2 linked regions of the Homo sapiens genome follow. The protein of the gene in region 2 interacts with the protein of the main gene of each other region in a pairwise test. Each region holds a gene or a part of one and is shown on either strand. Other genes may lie near its edges.

Region 1 (7,061 bases), on a different chromosome or scaffold from region 2:
ATTCAGGAAGATGAGAAATGCAGGGGTAGGAGTTGGGGGACAGATTTTCTCTTAACATGAAGGATGTCTGGATATGCTATTCTTTCCTCAGCCTATGAGAGAGTATTGGTAATGTTCACTGGAGAAGGATATTAGTCTAACCTATATACAGAGTCTTGGCAAAGGACTAACTCTCTAGTCCTCCCCGCCCCCCACACCCTCTTGCAGGAAGGAGGCAGCAGAAAGCTGTGGCATTGATAAAGGACCCCATAAGCTGCATTTTGAACACCTCTAGCTCAATTACTTTCATACAGATCTTCCCCGAGAGACCCCAAATGCAATGTTGCATGTCCAGAGTCAACTGTGTTCTGTTAGCTAATTGATGTTGGTTGAAACATAAGGGGAGAATTGAAAGCTAAGCCTTCAGAAATATATACCGGATGGATGAAGGGCAAGAAAGCAGACTGGAATGGCTGAAGCTGCAGCAGAGGGAAAATTCTAGAAGGAAAGAGAGAGAGAGATTTTCATGCTTGAAAGCATTCATTTGCAAGGAATTGAGTGTGCTGGAGAAAGGGGTTTTTGGTGGCAAGAGAATGAGAGACATCTGGAGAACATGTAGGGAAAGGAGAGAGAAAGAAGATGCCTCAATAGCAGAGAAGGCTGGAGGCACCTAGGAAGTAGGATCATAAGGTATCATGTGGAAGGTAGGAATGGAACCAAGATGTACTAATTACCACTATGTGCTAGGCACGAGCTGTTCTCCTGATTATCTCATTTAATCCTCACAATGTCCGGCACACTGCCTGGCATATAGTAGGCACTCAAAAATATGTTGAATATTTAATATTAACTAAATAAAAATAAAATGTTTAATATTAAATCAATAAAAGTGTGAACAATCCTAAGAGATGTCTATTACCAATTACATCTTACAGATAAGAACATGAGGCCCAGAAAGGTTAGGAAACTTGCCCAATATGTCACAGCTAGGGAGAGGTGGAAGGACAATGACTTCAAAGTTCCAGCGGTGGAAGGTGGGGGGTAATTTGTAAAGATCCTGTGGGTAATCTAGAAAAAGGTATGGTGCTTGGGTGTTGCCCAGAGACTGAGAAAGGGAGGAAAGAATGAAGGGCCAAGGGAACTGGGCTAGGGAGGAGGGCGAGAGGCCACTTGGAAAGAATTCTTCTTCTGGAAGAATGGGGACCCTGCAAAGGGCAACATCCAGGCTAACGCAGCAGGTGAGTTGGATGGGGGCACGACGGAAGCACAGCCTCTGCTGACATTGCAAAGGGTCTCTGTGGGAAGGCAGGGATCTGAGGTGGGAGGGATGGAGAAAAGGGCTACAGCGGTAAAGTGAAAGAGCCAGGCAGGCTGAGATGGAATATACTAACAGCTTGCGCATGGGACAGGGCAGAAGAGAAGGCTTCGACAGGAGGTGGCCTGGGAGGCGGCTGGGGAGAGGGTGTGGCCTGGGACTGGAGGGAGGCTGCACGCTAGGCCTGCGCTGGGGATCCTGGGCCCCGGGCAGCCCGCGGGGAGGGTCTGCGTGGTGACTCCCCCGCGCTAGCAGCGGCCGCGTCTCACCTGTAGGAGCTGCTCACTGCACTCGCCACCTCCTCGCGGATTTGCCGGTTGAGGGCGTCCGCCGCGGCGCGCCCCCTGCCAGCCTCGGGGCCGGTGGCCTGGACCTGGGCCTGGGCCGCGGGCAGCGGCGTCTGCTCGTGCCCCAGGCCCTCGGCGCGGCGCACAATCCAGGCAGGCCCGGCCTTCCTGCGCGTGTCGCGCTCGTCCGCCCCGGACGCCTTTCCGGCCGCCAGGCCACCCGCTCCGCCGGGGGCCGCCTCCTGCTCCCGGGCCTCAGCGGCGGCCTGCACTGGCCAGCGCTCCTGGCTCTGCGGCCGGCGCTTGGGCGCCCCGAGAATGGGCGCCGACGCCTGGGAGGCCGCAGAGATCTGCACGGGCTTGGGGATCCACGGGTGGTCCCCGCGGCGCGGCAGCGGCCAGGCGCGGAAGTCCTTCTGGTACTGGGTCTCGCGCTCGAAGGGAGCGTCGGAGGGCTGGTATTCGCTGCGCGGCCGGCAGCTGGGCTCGGGCCGCTGCACCTTCCAGGCTCGGTAATCCTGCCGCATCACCGAGTCCGCGGGGCCGGAGGTGGAGCCGGAGCCCAGGCCCGGGCCCGGCCCGCTCCGGCCGGGGCCCGCCGCCGGCTCGCGCTCGCCGGTAGGCCCAGGCGCTGGCCCCGTTGCCCGGGCAACTGCATCCAACTCGCCCTGGGCTGGCTGCGTCTCTATGGCAACCGCGCGCGCCGAGGGGGGCGCGAGCGCCGGCTGCGCCTGCTGCTGCGGCGGCGGTGGCTGCGGCGGGGCGCCCGGGTGCTCGGTGGCCTCCGAGTACTTGGTGAAAACCAGCGGCACAGCGATGTCCGCTTTGTCCAACTGGTTCCAGAAGCGGGCGATGCAGCAGGCCCTCGTGATGCACGGCCACGCCATGATGCTAGCTGAAAAGCCGGCCTCCTCTTTCTTCTTGTGGTTCTAAAGCAAGTCTCTATAATCTTCCTTCAGCCTCCGATCCTGACCGGCCAATGTGGTTCCCACCGTTTTCTACCCCCGATCAGCCGGAGCTAGTTCGCCCTCCTCCCTCAGCGAGCACCCGGGGAGAGCTGTCCTAGGAGAGTCTGTAGAGTCCCTCGATTACCGGTCGCAAACGCCTTTGGGAGCGCAGTCTGCTGCGAGCGCCGAAGGGTGAGACGCACGGCGTTCCCGAGTCCCCGGCGAGGGTGTCTGGGACGCGCCCCTCCCTGCGGCTGCGGCGGCGCACAGACCTCGGTCGAGCGAGGCGACGTGAGGAGAGGTGGCTACAGGCTTAAGCCATGGCGCAGAGGAGGGGCCGGGCGGTGTGGCCGCAGGGTCCGCGGACCGGGCTCGAGTCTCCTTCCTGCCGGCGTCCTAGTGCAGCCGGCCACCTAGCAGGGCTGGGAGGCCATCACCTCCAGCGGAGACCGAGCATTGCTGCCTCCGCCGCTGCCCGCGAGGATGCCGCAGCCGCCGCCGCCACCGCCTCTTCTCCTGGGAAGCGACCCCACCCTTTTCTGCAGCTCTCGGTCTCCGCCGCTGCCCGCGAATGATGCTGCAGCCGCTGCCGCCGCCGCCTCTGCCTCTGCTGCAGGGAAGCGGCCCCACCCTTTTATGCTGCTCAGCAGTGAGAAAAAAATCCAGGAACGATGCTGACTGAAAGAGTGCTGCAGAAAAAAACAAAACAAAACAAAAACACCTGCTGTCGTCAGCTTGCGCTGCTGGGAGCTTGCCTTCCCTCCCCACCACCCTCCGCCCTGGCAGCTCCTCCCTCCTCTACTCCCGGGCAACAGCAGAATCTGGGGACGTAGTGGGTTCAAGTCCCAAGCTCGTGAGGACTTTCTGTCCTTGTGCTTGTCGCTTCATCCCCAGGAGTCGGAGGCTCCTCTTTTGTAAAATAGGGCCAATGGGGGGGGGGGGTGCTATTAAATTTTAAAACATGGAGGAAACTCCTAGTGAAATGTCTGTCCCAGAATAGATGCTTTGAAAAGGGGAGCTGCTGGAATTGGTCAAAACCGGCGGGCTGTGTTTGAGCCCAGTTTGGTTGCCTCCTGGTTCAAGCACTTGCCAGTCTTACGCACAGGCCTTGCTCAGATGTGTCGGAATGGGAGCACCAGGGCTGGTGGTGCCCTGGATGTTCCTTTCCTAGGGAATCTTTGCGAAGGTATGTTTTAGACTCCCCCAAGAACCGCCCAGTCCCTGTTCAGTTCAGGTGCCACACTGGGGCAGAGGTAGAGAAAAGAAAATTCTGGAAAGTGGCTTAATTGTGGAGGTTGGGAGTAGGTAGGACCTGTGCCCTAGGAAACGGCAGTGCCTGGCCTGCAGGGGCCTTCTGGCACGTTCTCACTCCTCGCCGTTGCTCTTCTTCTATCTTCAAAGCAGAAGAGATTTTGAAGTCCGAAAGACCTGGTTTGGCTCTGCTACTCTCTGTGCCACTTGGGCAAGTTGAGTCATCCCTGTGTTTCAGTCTCCTCATCTGTAGAATGGAGGAAATACTACCTGCCTCAAAAATGGTTTTGTGGGCCGGGCGTCGTGGCTCACACTTGTAATCCCAGCACTTTGGTAAGCTGAGGCCGGTGGATCACCTGAGGTTGGGAGTTCAAGACCACCCTGGCCAACATGGTGAAACCCTGTCTCTACTAAAAATACAAAAATTAGCTGGGCATGATGGTGCGTGCCTGTAATCCCAGCTACTCAGGAGGCTGAGGCAGGAGAATCGCTTGAACCTAGGAGGTGGAGGTTGCAGTGAGCCGAGATAGTGCCATTGCACTCCAGCCTGGGTGACAAGAGCAAAACTCCATCTCAAAAAGAAAAAAAAAGTGGTTTTGTGAGGATAGCGAAGGACCCAGGGCAGAAGCTTTGAGTCAAATCTAATCTGCAGAGATTCAAATCCTGGCTTTTGTAGCTCTTAACTGTATGGCAGTGGGCAAATCACTGCAATCTTCTGACCTTCAGTTTCATCTATGAATGGGGGTACCAATACTGAACTTGCAAGGTTGTTCTGAGAATTAAAATGAGATAATGCACTAAAAATGCTTACCACAACATCTGGCATATGGCAATGGCTCAATAAATGGTAGCTATTAGTATCCAAAAGGCCCACCCAGAAGACCCATAAGTGGAGTGTCCTAAGAAGCCACTTGGACACCTTCTCCAGGAGACCTCTTGTTCCTCCAAGTAACTTTTGTTCTGTCTTTGCTATCTCTCCATTTATGTCTCCTGCACTCCTCCACTAGCTACATCCACTGGACTTCAGCTCTTTTCCCCTCCAATATAGGCAGAGTTTTCAGTATCAGTTAAGCTGGGAGCATTGGTGTTTCAGGGAGAGAAAGTCATGTATGTGTTTAGATTATAAATGGGTTGCACAACACAGATTTTCTTTAATCCTAGAATCAAATTGGATGAGAAGACAGCTCTGATTAGTCAATTATCTACTGAACTTCCTCCTACTTAGGACTTTGCCTCTTGGTGATTTGATTTGAGTTCCATAAATAAAATAATGTCTGGTGCTGTTTTCCAGTCGTTAGGAGATATATTTTTATAAAGAACATAATCTGGTCGTACATTTCCTCTTCTCACCCCTGCAGAACTCCCTGGGATTTGGCTGATGCATTTCCAATAATGATTTCCAAAGGTTTAAAAAAGGCTAAAAATTGGAGGGAGGATGTCTATTCTGAGAATCACTGATAGTTTATCCTTCTTTCATTTAACAAGTCTAGTCTCCTGATGCCTACTTTGTGCCTTGAGGACTATAGGACACATATGGATTATAGCTCTGGAGGAGCCCTCACTTGAAAGAATGTGTTATTGGAGAACTGAGAGACAGACACATAAGTAAATAATTATCAAAGAGTATGGTCAACATAACAGAGGTTAACACTGGTGCTGAATGAATGACTAGTAAGAGATGAGAAGGAGTTCTCCCAGCATGAGAAGTGTAAGGAAAATTTTATCGTTAACATCACCTTCCACATTTATTTACTTGGATTTGAAAAATGCATTCAACCTCCCTGGACCATCCAATGACCCTGTGGGACAGACAAGTCTAGTGGTCATCTCTTATATGGCTTATTTAGCAATCATTCGGGTGGTCACAGCACCTCATCATTTGAATTTTGAGGGCCACTCTTCTATTTTCAGGCCATGTGGTTCAGGTGGAGGTAATCCTAACCCACCTACCTTCCAGGGGTGCCCATATGACTCACACCTGTTTGCCAGGGGGATGCATCTTCCTGGTCAAAGTGACTAGTTTAGTGATGGGGGTGTGATCCACATTAGACCAGTTAAAGAAACCCCAGACTTTAGCTGAAACTATCCTAAAGACCCACTCTCCTTTTTTTTTTTTTTCTAGAATTGCTAAAATGGAAGACTATGAAGCTACTGTTAGTGGTCATCTTTGCCATTACTGGTGGGGAGGCTTCCTAAGGTTGAAGCAAACACAGAGAAAATCAGAAGGGGGCACAGGATTCTGATGATATCTACACCCCAGAGCCCATTCTTCTCTTCTTCCCTATAGTAACAAAAGCCCCCAAGTTTTATTTGGGCACTGGGCCACCCAACCAGAAACCACATTTCCCAACCATCCTTGCAGCAAAGAACAACCATCTGCACTTCCATGTCACTTCCTTAAAAGAAGTTGCTTGTGTTCAACTTTGTCTTTCTCCCCATTGGGTAGGATGTGGACATGGTAGAGGTGAGTTATCATTTGGGTAGTTAAGACAGCTCTGAAGGTTTTGGTGTTGTGGTTAAGAACATTCTAGTGCCAAGATTCAACCTTGGGGAAGGAAGGGGAGAGGAACAACACAGCAGAAACCTGTCTTGGATGATCCCATGGAGCAGAGCAGCCTAGCAGCCTTGGGCTACCTGCTTACTGCTAGACTGCATGTGAGAAAGAAATATAGTTCCCTCTTGTTTGAACCACTGTTTGGAGTTCTCTTAGTATTTTAGTCATTTGAGCATGTGGATCTGGCCATGCCTGAACAAATTTGAGGTATATAAAAACAGTAGAGTACCAAAATACTGGGAAATACTATGATGTTAAGATATGAAGGAATAATCAGAGTTAAAATATTCTAAAGTCCCTATTTGTTTGTGAGGAGAGTAGAAATCTTAACTTATTGTATTAGTCTGTTCTTGGACTGCTATAAAGAACTACCTGAGACTGGGTAATTTATGAAAAAAAGAGGTTTAATTGACTCACAGTTATGCATAGCTGGGGAGGCCTCAGGAAACTTACAATCATGGCAGAAGGCAAAGGGGAAGCAAGGCACCTTCCTCACATGGCCAAAGTAGGAGGAAGAGAGAGAAGGGGTAAGTGCTACACACTTTTAAACAACCAGCTCTCATGAGAACTCACTCACTATCATAAGAACAGCAATGGGAAATCCACCCCCATGATCCAATCACCTTCCACCAGGTCCCTCCCCCAACACTGAGAATTACAATTCCACATGAGATTTGGGTGGGGACACAGAGCCAAGCCATATCACGTATTAACCTAAAAAGTTTATG
Region 2 (7,158 bases):
TAGCTAATTTGATGGATTTTTTTAAATATAAAAAAGCATGTTGTTTGGCTGTTTCAATTGTCTTGTTGTCTGAGACGTTGTAGATACATTGCCAATCACTTCCAGCTTAAATGAGCTTTCATTAAGAGTATTAGTCCTGCAGAATTCCCCAACTCATCTCAGCTTGTTAGTGGTGGAGCAAAGACAAGATGTTCTACTTTCCTTTTCTGCATGTTTGCGGAACATCTTTTAGCTAGCTAGCTTCCTCTCCCTGCCACCAACCACTGCAAAATGTTATCCCTAAAGATGTAACACATCCATCACGCCAGTTTGAAGTAAAATTCCAGCTAAACCCAGTTAATACTGCTGTCTAAATATTAATTTTCGGCTTACTTGTTGCCATTCTTTCATTTCATGGCTTCTTTTTCCTATGGTTTTAGAAAAACCCAAGGATGTAACTCCTGAAATGTTTCATGGTTTTCTGTTTGCTTACCCACATTTTATTTCTATTCTCAAAACTAGGGGAATAAAACATTCCTGATAAGAGATGTGGCTCAGGTTGATCAATACTTGCCGTCTCCCTCACCTCCAGAAGAGTGTGGTAGCATCCCGCCCAGAACGTATACTTAGGATGTGGTGAATTGTCGTGACTATTTATTTTCGTGGTATCTCCTAGATGGTGAGGGCAGAAACCTCGTTCTGCTCTTCTCAAGTGTATGGCACATTTCAAAAATAGGTATTTGAAGAAAAATGCCTGGCAGTCTAGGACAGTGACTTAACCTTAACCTTAGAATTTAAGCTTTATCACTTAACTCTCTGTCCTAGGAATATCACTCACTGTCTCAGACTCTCAATTTCTTTATCTGTACAATGAAATGGTTTCTTCACTGCTCACCTGAAGGAACTGGTGTGAGGCTCAAAATGACTAAAATGCATGAAATGATTTTCTACATTTTTCTCCATATATCAAACATTATCATTAGAGCCCTTAACCTAGGAATTTTGTAGTTTCGTTGGTGAACTTTCAGCAAGACAAGTTTGTTTTTTTGGGAGAGTATTCCTGACTCTGCTAATATTCAAAAACTGACTTTTTGGGATCTGCATGCAGTTGCTCATATAGTTGTGTTATGGTTCTTACATGTGTGTTTTTATCAAAAATTTCAAACTCATGAGATCTTAGTCTATATGGACTGGTCTAAAAACTGGTTTTTAAAAGCGATCTGCTTTTAAGATGACCCAATATCAGAAGCATAATGACCTAGTTGCATACATTTCATTATTCTCTTAGAATCCAGAGGAAGCAGATCAGGACTTCTGGTAGCCAAGGGTGATGTTAAATTTTTTTTTTTTTTGGTGTGACATAATCTCAAATTCACCCAGTCAGGATGTGGCAAAATCTGATTTTCTGTTTTATATGCATAGGGTTTTTTTCTATGGCAGCTTGCCACCAACCAGATTGGTTTAGATGCCCATTAATCAAATCAAGTCAAAATGACAGCGTGCATACTCTGAAAGCTCCAGTTTGTAGTGCCTAGAAGGAGGTCAGGTAGGCAGCAAACACCAAACCTGTGTTGTGGTGAGAATGGCAATCAACTTGTGAGGAGCTGCCATTGGTGGGAGGAAATACAGTATAACGGTTAAAAGAATGGGTTTTGATGTTACTCAGATATGGGCTTATAAGTGTTCTTTGCTTTTTACAAGTTATATAACTTCTAAGCCTCGATTTTTCCATCAGTAAAATATACAAATACATAACAGGCATAATGGGATTGTTATGAGAATTTAAATAGGACTTGCTCATCACAGTGTAGGTGCTCGATAAAAGGTAATTATATTATCTGCAATAACCAGTGATACTAATAGTCAATTAAAATAACAGTTATATTATTAATAATAATGGTGCTTACATATGATAGGTACTGTACTAAGAACTCATAAATATTAACTCACTTAATCCACACACACAGATAAAGACTATTATTGGCCTGGGTTAACAACTGAGACTCAGAGAAGTTAAGTAAATTGTTTAAGGGAAAAGGCACAATTGGGTTTTAAATGCAGGCACTTTGACTCCAGAAGCAGAGTTCTTAGTCACCACACTATACCACAGATGCCTTCCTGCCCAGTGATACTGTCAAGGATTTAATATTTTAGTGAAATGAGTGTCAATGTTTTGGACGGTGCAGGAAAGACAGTATATTATACTATTGTGGCTCTTCATTGGTACCTAGATTCAACAGTCATAGAATGGGTTTGTGTCCACTAGGTGGCATTGCTGTTTTAATGAAATGTGAACCAAACCACTATTTAGGCTTAGGGGTCTCCTAAATTTGAGAGCACTGGCAGGACAGCCCATTTGCATCCCTAAATGTCTGATGAAAAAAATCCTCCAAAATTTGAAACATATTTAAAGATATCTAAAGACTAGAGGTATCTTGAAATAATTGAGTAAAATATACGCGAGTTTATTTTGCATGTCAATGTCTGTGCAGAGTGTCTGGATAAATTTTGAGATTCTCTAGTCCAGTTCTGTCAGTTCACAGAATAGACTCAGGGTCAGAGAGGAAAAATGACTTGTTCAGGGTAACGCAGACCTGATGGTTTGGCTGTAGTTCTCTTTCCATAATATTTAATGTGGTTGCTAAATCATAAACAAGTTATGATTTATTAATTCTTAGAAGACTCCCCTTTTGAATATAGGCCAGAAGATTGCTCCACTGTTGTGAGTTTTTGTTTTATAAGGATTCAAACATATCTCTCAAATTAATAGTAGACTCAGGAACTTAGATATTAAGTAGTATAAATGCAAAGGAAGGTGCCTTTTCCCTCTTGAAAAGTTTGAATGACTATTTTAAATGACCGTCCCTATTAGTTGACAATGCAGTCTATGAATTGAGACCCATGGCAGGTAGCAGGTTAACAGAGGAGTGGAGGGACTCTGGAATCAGACTGTCTGAGGTGAACCCTGGCTCTGTCATTTAGTAATTATAGGACTCTGGGAAGTTATGAGACATCTCTAAGCTTCGGTTTCAGCATCTGTATAACAGAAATACTATTTTAATTTATCTTTTAAGATGTTCGTGAAAAGTAAACGTGTGAAGGGCCCATGATATAGTAAAAACAGTTAAGGATGACAGTAATAATTAACTATTTTTGTTATTTTAGTTGATGTTTCTTTTTTTGTGTGTCTCTCAGCTGTGAAAGTCATTACAGGTGCTTTGTCAACAATGTTACTCACTGTCACATGCTGCATTGCTAAAAGGGAGAAATAACGCTTCAGGTTTATAACTGTGTAACATTGCTTCTTCCTCAACCAGATGGTACAAGTAGCCAAGAATATGGCCATGTATTTCATTATGTGTTCACAGCAGCTTAATTTAAAACACTTGTAGGCTTTAGGCTCCTATTTGCAGGTTAGACAGAGAAGGTGACCGAGCATGTAGCATAAAACAGTAATAGCTAAGAGTTATTGAGCACTTCCTGAGTGCCAAACCTTGCTATGGTTTACACGTATTAACTCATTTAAGCTTTACAATGTCCCTGTGAGCTACAAGCTAATGCTTTCCCCCTTGTAAAGATGAAGGAACTGGGATTGAGAAACTTGCTCCAGCTTAAATAGTAAGCCAAAGAGCCAGGATTTAAACTCAGGTAGCACAGTTCTTAATTGCTCTGCTCTGCCACCTCTTTGGGCAGAGCCCTTGAAGAAATGTAAAGAGCCCTTGAAGGTTCCTGAGCTCTAGCCTGCTTTCTCCAGTACACTAAATATTGCAGTGAAGCCTGGGATCACATCGCCACTGTTTGCTTAGCTCTTCTAGCCTACTGTTAACATGCAACCCTGTTACCCAGGAGAGTAATGTGTTAAACCTACTTCAATATTTTTATGGCAGTTAGTTGATGAGATTAACTGGTTAAACATTTAATAGACTCCTGAGTTCGATGGAGTAAAACAAAGTTGCAGTGGGTCAGAAGAGAGCTTGCCTAAGGCAGGGCACTCTTGAAGATCGCTCCTTAGGAATCGAAGGAAAGAGGATCAGCTTTCTGATGCAATCATGCCTATGACTAGCTTATTTGTTGCTCTCATGTTCTATAAGATTCCAGACTACACTCTTTTCATTGCTGTAATTCAGAATCCTATATGGAATTCTTGAATTCAGATTTCCAAGAGCCTTGGCGGTCTTCTGGTCTATCGCCCTGACTTCACCAAGAAGGAAGCTGAGATACTGTTTGCTTAAAGTTTGTCCCCATTTATCTTAGAGGAAGAGTTGGGCCCCTGTTCGTTTGGTTATTCCACACTGTTTCTATATCCTTCAGCAATTTCACTTTGAATAGCATCAACTTTGAATACATGCCGAAATTTCCCTGTTTATACCAATAACATTTTTCCTTCAGTGAGAACCCAAATTCAACAGATAGCATCTGTTCTTTACAGATAGCATCTTTCTATTTATAATTTCTTCTTTCTTCCTTTGCTTGAAATAAACTTTTATGGGGTGGGGAAAAATGACATTTATTAGAATATATTTAAAAATCAATTTGTTTTCTCAGTAGAAGCTGTGAATCCAAGTAATTCAATTTAAGTCTTAAGAAAATTACCATACTAAATAGGACCAAGGTAAATTCAAAGCAAAATCTCAAAAAAAGCCACTGGGAGGAGACTTCCACTTACCGATTTCAGTCATGGTTATCCCTGGTGCTAACTGCCCATTGTTGAAAGAGCTATAGGTAAACAAGTTGGGTACGGATGTGAGGTCATAGATAGGTTCTTGCTTTATCTGTTTGATTCCAGTCATGTCAAGTCCTGACTGATCAGGGGACGGCTGACCGGAATCGACGTTGTAATAACCCTCAGACTTGGGCAGGTCAATGACGTGCCCGTTGGCATAAGTGCCGCTGGTCTCGTTGTTCAGGTTGCTCAGGCCGTTGCTAATGCTGCTGCTGTACACCCTGGCAAGGGCTTCTGCCTCCCCACTCTGCTGCTGCCGCTGTTCCTGCAGCCGCTGCTGGTGCTTCTGCACCTCAGCATACAGGCTGTCCCTTTGCTTCTTGGACATCCTCCCAAACTTCACAGCTGGGTTGGAGAGAAAAGCAGAAAACAGCACTTGTGGTTATCATTCGCGTTAACCACCTCAGGTACAACGGGTCATGGGATGGTTGTCCCTTCAACTTCAAATGCACAAATGTCTAGCACCATAACTTAAGAACCCATTCATTTGCACTCCACATCTGGGGAAAGGTTATATTCAGAGGGTACCTGTCCTGGTTTATGCCCACAGTGAGAAATAAATCTAAGCCAGGAAGAAATATAAAAACTTATGTATGTATTTCTCATTGCCATGAAGTTAGAAAGCATGTTTTCCTCTTTTTTTCTTACCTGTGGAAAAAAATGCAAAAAACCAAAATACCAAATTAGCAATAGTACCCGCTATTAAAATGTTAACCAACACTCATAACTAACTTTTCTCTTAATCTTTAGGATTACTAGATTGCCAGATTGGACCCTAGTATTTCACTTTCAAATCTATTTTCTGTTTTCTTTCTCAAATTTCTTTTTATTTTTTATAATAATTTTCTTTAAGAGACAGGGTCTTGCTCTGTCACCCAGGCTGGAGTGCAGTGGCATGATCATAGCTCACTGAAACCTTGGGCTCCTGGGCTCAAGCAATCCTCCCACCTTGGCCTCCTGAGTAGCTAGGACTGCAGGTGCATGCCGCCAGGTCCAGCTATTTTTTTTTTTTTTAATTTTTGTAGAGCCGGGGCCTTGCTATATTGCCCAGGCTGGTCTTGAACTCCTGGCCTCAAGTGAGCCTCCTGTCTCGGCCTCTCAAAGTGCTGGGATTACAGATGTGAGCCACTGCACCCGGCCAGGCCGATTTTCTAAATAGTGTGTTGGGTAAGACCGAAGGCATGGGGCTGGGTGATAAACATAATTTTAAGTGATGGCATCATTTGCCTTCAGTTGGCTTTTGGGATCAAATGATAAGATTCTTTGGAAAATAGCAATTTGGGGCATCCAATGCCTAGCAAGTGACCAAAACAGTAACTATCTTTTCTCATTCTACCACTCCCAAGTTTTATTTTTCCTATCTCTTCTGGCAATATTCTCAGCAGTCTGAGGAAAAAGAAGGAAGAAGTGCTGCAAGTAGTCACAGGGTAATATCAAGGTGCTTTCATTTCAGTGTGTTGTTTCTTAAGATATTTAACCTCCTGAACTGTTGTGAATATTGACATTTCTCCTCACAGGTTGTCAACTGCCTTTTTAGGATGTGAACATCCTGAGTCACAGGCCTACCTTGTTTGAATTATCAAGCATTGTTCAGCTCATGTTAATAGTGGGGGCTACCACAAACTTGGAGGCTCCTCCCTGAGTTTCTGTTTGCTGTTCTTTTGTGACGGTATTCCCACCACCTCTTGGTGTTAGGAGCTCAGAGAATGGAGAAAGAAGGAAATGGAGTTTAGAAAAAGGCTCAGTTCCTGGATTCAATCATGAGGGTTGATGCTCTTCTGAGAATATCTAAATGGTGAAGTGCTTAAGAACTCTCTAGCACAAAGGGAACACAGAAGAGATTCCCACAGTCTGAAAGAGCTGCCATTCACCCTCCTCCTCCAATATTCTTCCAAAATTCATTTTCTTTTCCCATTGGGTACAGAGCTACCATATTTATCTGAGCATAGGCTGATCAGAATGGAGACCGTAATTCCTAAGCCCCCTCACTGGCAGGTATGTGCAGGTGATTAAGTTCTGATTAAGGGGAAGTAAATGCAAGTGTCGCATTCACTTGGGGGTATTGGGGCATGTTTTCCTCCTTCTTGCCTGCTGGATTGTGGATGTGAGGGCTGGGTTTGAAGAAGCCAAACTCTTTCTGTATCTTCTTAATCCTTCTTAAAAACCTACATTCTAGGGCTGGGTGCGGTGGCTTGCACCTGTAATCCCAGCACTTTGGGAGGCCAAGGCGGGCAGATCACGAGGTCAGGAGATCGAGACCATCCTGGCTAACGTGGTGAAACCCTGTCTCTACTAAAAATACACACACACACACACACACACACAGAATTAGCCGAGTATGGTGGTATGTGCTTGTGGGCGTGGTGGTGTGTGCTTTGTCTTCCCAGCTACTCGGGAGGCTGAGGCAGGAGAATCCCTTGAACCCAGGAGGCAGAAACTGCAGTGAGCCGAGACTG

Evidence for each region. The genes of interacting proteins can lie anywhere in the genome.
Region 1: the proteins of RORB (region 2) and MAP6 interact in a two-hybrid assay, tested with the Homo sapiens proteins (one study listed by BioGRID).

The regions. Positions count from the first base shown.
Region 1 is NC_000011.10:75,665,902-75,672,962, forward strand, and holds the start of MAP6 (microtubule-associated protein 6), read right to left. Parts: upstream 3,138-7,061; 5' UTR 2,469-3,137; coding exon 1,564-2,468; intron 1-1,563. UniProt on the Homo sapiens protein: Involved in microtubule stabilization in many cell types, including neuronal cells. Specifically has microtubule cold stabilizing activity.
Region 2 is NC_000009.12:74,640,303-74,647,460, reverse strand, and holds part of RORB (nuclear receptor ROR-beta), read right to left. Parts: intron 5,048-7,158; coding exon 4,646-5,047; intron 1-4,645. UniProt on the Homo sapiens protein: Nuclear receptor that binds DNA as a monomer to ROR response elements (RORE) containing a single core motif half-site 5'-AGGTCA-3' preceded by a short A-T-rich sequence.